2 separate regions of the Homo sapiens genome follow, and region 2 is linked to region 1. Evidence: fine-mapped expression QTL. Tissue or cell type: sun-exposed skin. Region 1 holds a variant in brackets; the other region holds the start of a gene. All regions are shown on one strand. Distances are between the middles of the regions.

Region 1 (2,752 bases):
AGCCAAGTTTCTAAGGGGCTCTGCACCCCACCCTCACCCAGCCACAGCAGATTGGCCTTGGGGTGGACACTGGCCCAGGAGAAACCATTCCAGAGGTGAGGTTGAGCCAATCCAATTCTCTTGTGGGGGAATCTGGAATACAGACATGGAGAAAATGGTTCTGTTAGCTTCATAGTGCTTTTGTCTCTGGTTGACAGACTCTAACTGTTAAGCAAACGTTTAGTAAGGTTAAATAATTCCAGCTGACCCAGGAAAGAAAGGAACTGAGACAGCTTGAGACACAGAGCAGTAGGATCTCCTGGGCTGCCACTAACGTTCTAAACTATTCATTGTGTCTTCCCTTTCTGAGTTCAAATTTGCATGAGAAACCGGCTGGCTCAACTTGGGTCAGGTGTCTACCCTTGGGACAATCAGTTCCAACCAGGGGCAAGATCACATGGGCAGAAATAATTCCTGGGGGCTCACCTTGAGTTTTAGGTGTCTTCCCAGAGAAGGGGGCATTTTGAGGGCCAGGTAGCCACATTGAGAGGTACCTAGGGGGGTTACCAAGATGAAGACAGAGCAGACGAAGGCGGTGTGCAGAGGCAGAAGGGAGAGAAACAGAGGCAGGAGATGCGGCAGAGACTGGGAGGACAAGGAAGGGGTTGCCCTCACATTGAAAGTTTAAGGGTGGGCTTCAACTCACATCTTGGAGTCCCGTCCTCTGTGGCCATCATCTGAGAGGCTCTTGATAAAATCATTTTGCACATGTTCCATTTATTGCTCCCCTCATGAGAAGACGTAGCTGCCTGTGAATCTGACAGCACTTGTGAAGCTGGGGTGGAAGGAAGGATTTGCTGTTATCTGATCATGACCATTTTTGCCTGGCTATGCAGGCAAGGGCTACTTTGCTAAAACTTAATTCTAAAGGTGACTGCATCTGTTTCCACCTCCCACTGCTGCTTAGCTTCCACTGGCTCCTACAAACTGAATATAAAAAACTAAGAGACAAGTGAGCATCGGCACCCCTGCTGGGAAGGGCCCACTTTTCCCATTCAAGTTGGGGTATCAAGGTTTTGAGAGCTCAGAATATGATGAAGTGCACAGCTACCACCTCTCTGGGATGAAAGAACTGAGTTGTTCATGTACTTCCTGGCATTTCTTAC[C/T]GTCTCACCAGTTTCTGGCTTGGAGGACATTTTGCTCAAATTCTCTGCAAACTACCTGCAGCTGTGGCCCCTTGGAAAGCATGGTGACCTGAAAGAATCAGGACAAAAGGAGAGCACCACAGGGCAGTGGGTGCCAGGCGTGTGGAGCCACCTGAGCATGGGACACCCCTCGGGAGGGACAGTCAAGCAGAGGAGAGAAGGTGAGAGTGTTCACCTCAGGAGATAATGAGTGATATGTATGCGTCAAAGGTGTTACTGATATGGAGGGTGGATATGGGGAAACTTTTAGGAAAGGGTAGTTGCTTTCAGGTTGTATTTTTGAAGGCAAGGACAGCTGCGGGTTGGTGGGCAGCACAAAGGTTACATGCAGGTAAAAGACAAGCCCAACATCTGGGCATGAAAGACAGTTGGCTGTAAGGGACCTGTGCAGAGTGGGTTGGGAGAGGTCAGGACTGGTCTTTAGGAATCTGCCAGAAGGAAATGGCTTACATCAGAGATTCAGAGCTGGGGCTGGAGAGAGAAGATGAAATCCACATGATGCCACTGACCATTAGCAGAGAGGAAAGACAGGCAGTTGGCCAAGCTCAGCCGTGGACCAGGCCCTGCTTGTGTCAGAGCCAACAGCCCTCCAGGCCCCTGTTGATTGTGAATTGACTTGAGGGTGTCTGGGAGAGGCCCAGGCCTGAGTGGGTGGAGGAAACGAAGCCAAAACCCAAGTGAGGTTTTGAAGGGGTCTATGAAAAGACCAGTGTCAGGAGGAACTGGGTTCTAAGGCAGCATCATGTCCCTCCTTTAGGACTTGCTTTTCTCTGTCCACTTGGTAGCAGTGACAGATTGCTAGCAGATGTTTTTGCACAAAATGACCCTGCCCACTGGCCCTATTGATTGTCTCAGGAGTGGACACAGTCTCTGACCTTGGCTAGGGGAATTCCTTCCATGAGCATATGGGATCAAGGCTAAAGGATTCCAGCTTCTGTTTGGGATGGATCCTTGAACAGAGTGAATGTAAATACTGGGGAGAAACGAGCAAGGTTTCCTCCATGTGTCTGCATTGCAAAGAAAGTGACTTTGCAGAAACGGAGAGAAGAATTGGGCAGGTAAACAGATAAGGTAGGGTGGGAGGAGAGAAGCAGAAGTGCGTTTTCTTCTTCTTATGGCCTCTTCCTCAGGCCTACGACCCCTGTGGCCTTGAGTCCCAGGAGACCCCTCTACAATATCTTACATTCTTAACAGTGGGGATATTGTTCCTTAGGGGACAAAATCAGTTCTTGGGGGTCAAAAAGAGCCAATGTTTTGTGGCCCTCCAAAGGGTTATGGTCCCTAAACAGATATGTAGTACATCTGTGGTATTGAAACTTTATGGGAGGCTGGGACCTTGACAGCCAGATAAAAATGTCTGAAATAGTTCCTAGGGGAGTGATGATGAAAAATAAGTATGGGAAACACAGCTCTAAATCTTTGGAATGTCTTCACCTCCCCACTTCTTTTTCTCTGTAACTTCCAGTCTACTCAAATGAAGACAGACATCCTTGGCTGGTGGCCATGTTGAAGGGCTGGGGAGGAAGAGGGGCTGCTGGGAATGGCTTGGCTGAGGGGTCTCTGAGACA
Region 2 (2,616 bases), 110 kb after region 1:
CACAAATTGCTACAGAATCATGGAGTGTCACTGGCTCTAAAGCGCTGCCGGTGGACGCCACCTCATTAGCTGACACCTCTTAATCACTGTGGCTGGAATGTGGGCTTCCCTATCTTGAAACCGACCGCGGGCGATCAGAGCCGGCGGCGAGTGAGAGCTGCAACCACTGCGGGCTGAGCTCCGACACCAGAATCGGCGCAGAGACAGGGGACCGACCAGGCCAACTCTCTCCACTTGGGGCTGGGAGGGCAATTACCACCGACCCCCTTGGCTTCCCATCTACGACCCCGGAAGCCTCCCCTCCTCCAGGTACCCAACCTTCTGCGTGTCACCAATCACCCGCTACCCCCGCCTCCCCGCCCCCGGGAGCGCCTCCCAGGCCAAGGCTCCGAGGGCCCCGCGCATCTCCAAGACCGGACAGGGGTCCTCACTCGCAACACCTGCGGCTGGCAGAGGGAAAATACCAAGGGTGTGGGGGAGGGGGAGAGTGTCTCTCAGCCGCCTCAGATGGTCCTTCGGGCTCCCTGGGGACGCGCAGAGCTTCGGCGGAGATGGGAGCGGGGAGGGGTTAACGCGGGAAATTAAGAGACTCGGGCAATTGGCGGTGCTCAAGTTAACCGGGTCTGTGGCGAGAGTTCTGGGGTTGGGAGCTGCCGGCCGCGCACTCGCCCCGGGTCTGCAGCCACCGCCGCGGCGGTAGTTCTAGGGCGGAGCGCTCTCCCGCGCCGCGCCGCGGGCTGGGGGCACCAGAGGCCGCGCGGAGGCCGGGGCGGGCACCTGAGCTGGCGCGCAGCCGGGGCAGGGGCTGCAGTCCAGCGCCGGGGAAGGGGCGACCGAGCTGCGTGCGTGTGCAAGACCGGCCGCCGGCGCCTCGCGCCCCGACAGGTGCAGGCGCGCGGGCTTCCCATTGGTCGCGGCGGCGGGCCCCTTTCCCCGTCCCCGCCCTCGCCAGTCTCCGGCCACGCCGCGGCGCCGGCTGGGTTGGCAGAGGCGCGTGCTCGCGCGCCCGCGCACCCCTCGCCCCGTCCCCGCCCCCCCACTCACCCCGTCCCCACCCACTCCCTCTCTCCGCGCCGCCGCCGCCGCGCGCTCGCGAGTTCAGGTAGCGGGCGCGCGGGCGCCTCCGCGGGGGCGCGCGGCCGGGCTCCCGTCCTCCCCCAACACCCGCCCGCTCGGGGGCGCCTGGGGAGGGAGCGCGCGGGCGGGGGAGCTGGAGCCGAGCGCCGCCGCCGAAGCTTCCGTCTCGCTCGCTCGCGCAGCGGCGGCAGCAGAGGTCGCGCACAGATGCGGGTTAGACTGGCGGGGGGAGGAGGCGGAGGAGGGAAGGAAGCTGCATGCATGAGACCCACAGGTAAGACCGACAGTCCCGGAAGGGTCTTCCATTCCGAGGAGGCGCGCGCAGGCCGGGGAGGGGGAGTTGGTGCCTGGTGCAGCTCCCCAAGGGAGAATTTTTTTTTTTTTTTTGACAGCGCAGAGAAATCTCACTGGGGACTGGGGCAGTAGGATCGATCCCAATCCCGAGGAAAACCAGAGAAGTAGCTGGGGGAGACGGTGCCACATTGTGAGATTCCCAGAGTGAAATGTATAGGCCCAGGGAAAAGTGTCTTCGCGGCCCCGAGACGCGGGGAGGCTCTAGACTTTCCTGTGGTGGGCACAGCTGCTGAATCCCGGGGACCGGCGCGGAGCCAATGTGCGCTAACCCCTGCCCTCCCTCCTGTCCTCCATCCCCCAGCACGCGCAGCATCCCACGGCGGCTGTTACTCAGTGCACCCGGCTCGGGGGAAGGCGGGGGACCTCGCCGTGGGAAAGGGGGCGGGGGCCGCGCGGGGGAGGAACCAGGATGGAGCCTGGGAAGCCGAGGCGCCGGGTCCCAGAGCGGAGGAGGGGGAGCGTGGCCCCCGAGCCCGGACAGACTGGCTTATTGTGGTGTTCCGCTTCTGGTTGCAGACTCTTGCAAGCTGGATGCCCTCTGTGGATGAAAGATGTATCATGGAATGAACCCGAGCAATGGAGATGGATTTCTAGAGCAGCAGCAGCAGCAGCAGCAACCTCAGTCCCCCCAGAGACTCTTGGCCGTGATCCTGTGGTTTCAGCTGGCGCTGTGCTTCGGCCCTGCACAGCTCACGGGCGGTGAGTGACCCAGCTGTGGTGGGAGGGCCTGGGGATGGCCCAGAGGGGAGAAAGAGCCTAGCTGCCAGGACAGCCCTGCACCCCTCCCCCATACACCCAGACTTCAGGAGGATCTGACAACGCGAGGGTGCCTGCGTCCCAGCCTATGGCCGCCCTTCTCCGAAACCGCTGGAGTTCCCTGAAAATTCCCATGTGGAGCCCGCACAGATTCACACACCCACATTCTGTCTGGAGCTTCCCACCAGCCTCCGGGCCTGGCTTCTCCCAAGGAAAGACAATAAAGCCTGGCCCATTATTCCCACTTTGGCCAAGGAAGCGGGGGCGGGGGGGGGAGGGGTGGGGGGTGGGGGCAGTGGGGAGTGGTGTATTTGTGGACCTCTTGCCAATGCCTTCAGCAGATAGAGGTCAGATTTCAGCCTCTGGATTTAAGCAAGAGTTTAAGAACCACCTTTGAGAATGTGAAGGGTCTGGAAACGTGGTCAGACT

Direction of the effects. Positions count from the first base shown, and alleles are read on the strand shown. Sizes are in standard deviations (SD) of each study's normalised expression.
As copies of C replace T in region 1, the expression in sun-exposed skin of the gene that starts at base 1,232 in region 2 goes down (small effect, 0.19 SD a copy in GTEx).

What was found. PIP is the estimated chance that this variant, and not a neighbour inherited with it, causes the effect.
Region 2: SUSD4 starts here. The variant in region 1 is fine-mapped to the expression of SUSD4 in sun-exposed skin (GTEx, PIP above 0.99).

What each region holds. Positions count from the first base shown.
Region 1 is chr1:223,468,957-223,471,708 of GRCh38, reverse strand. No RefSeq gene overlaps it. Among named protein-coding and RNA genes, the nearest start is that of CCDC185, 77 kb to the right of the region's middle. The variant C/T (reference allele first, on the strand shown) is at 1,146.
Region 2 is chr1:223,362,792-223,365,407 of GRCh38, reverse strand. SUSD4 (sushi domain containing 4) reads left to right here and starts at 1,232. Exons shown (of 9, transcript NM_017982.4): 1 at 1,232-1,351; 2 at 1,948-2,130. The coding sequence starts at 1,983.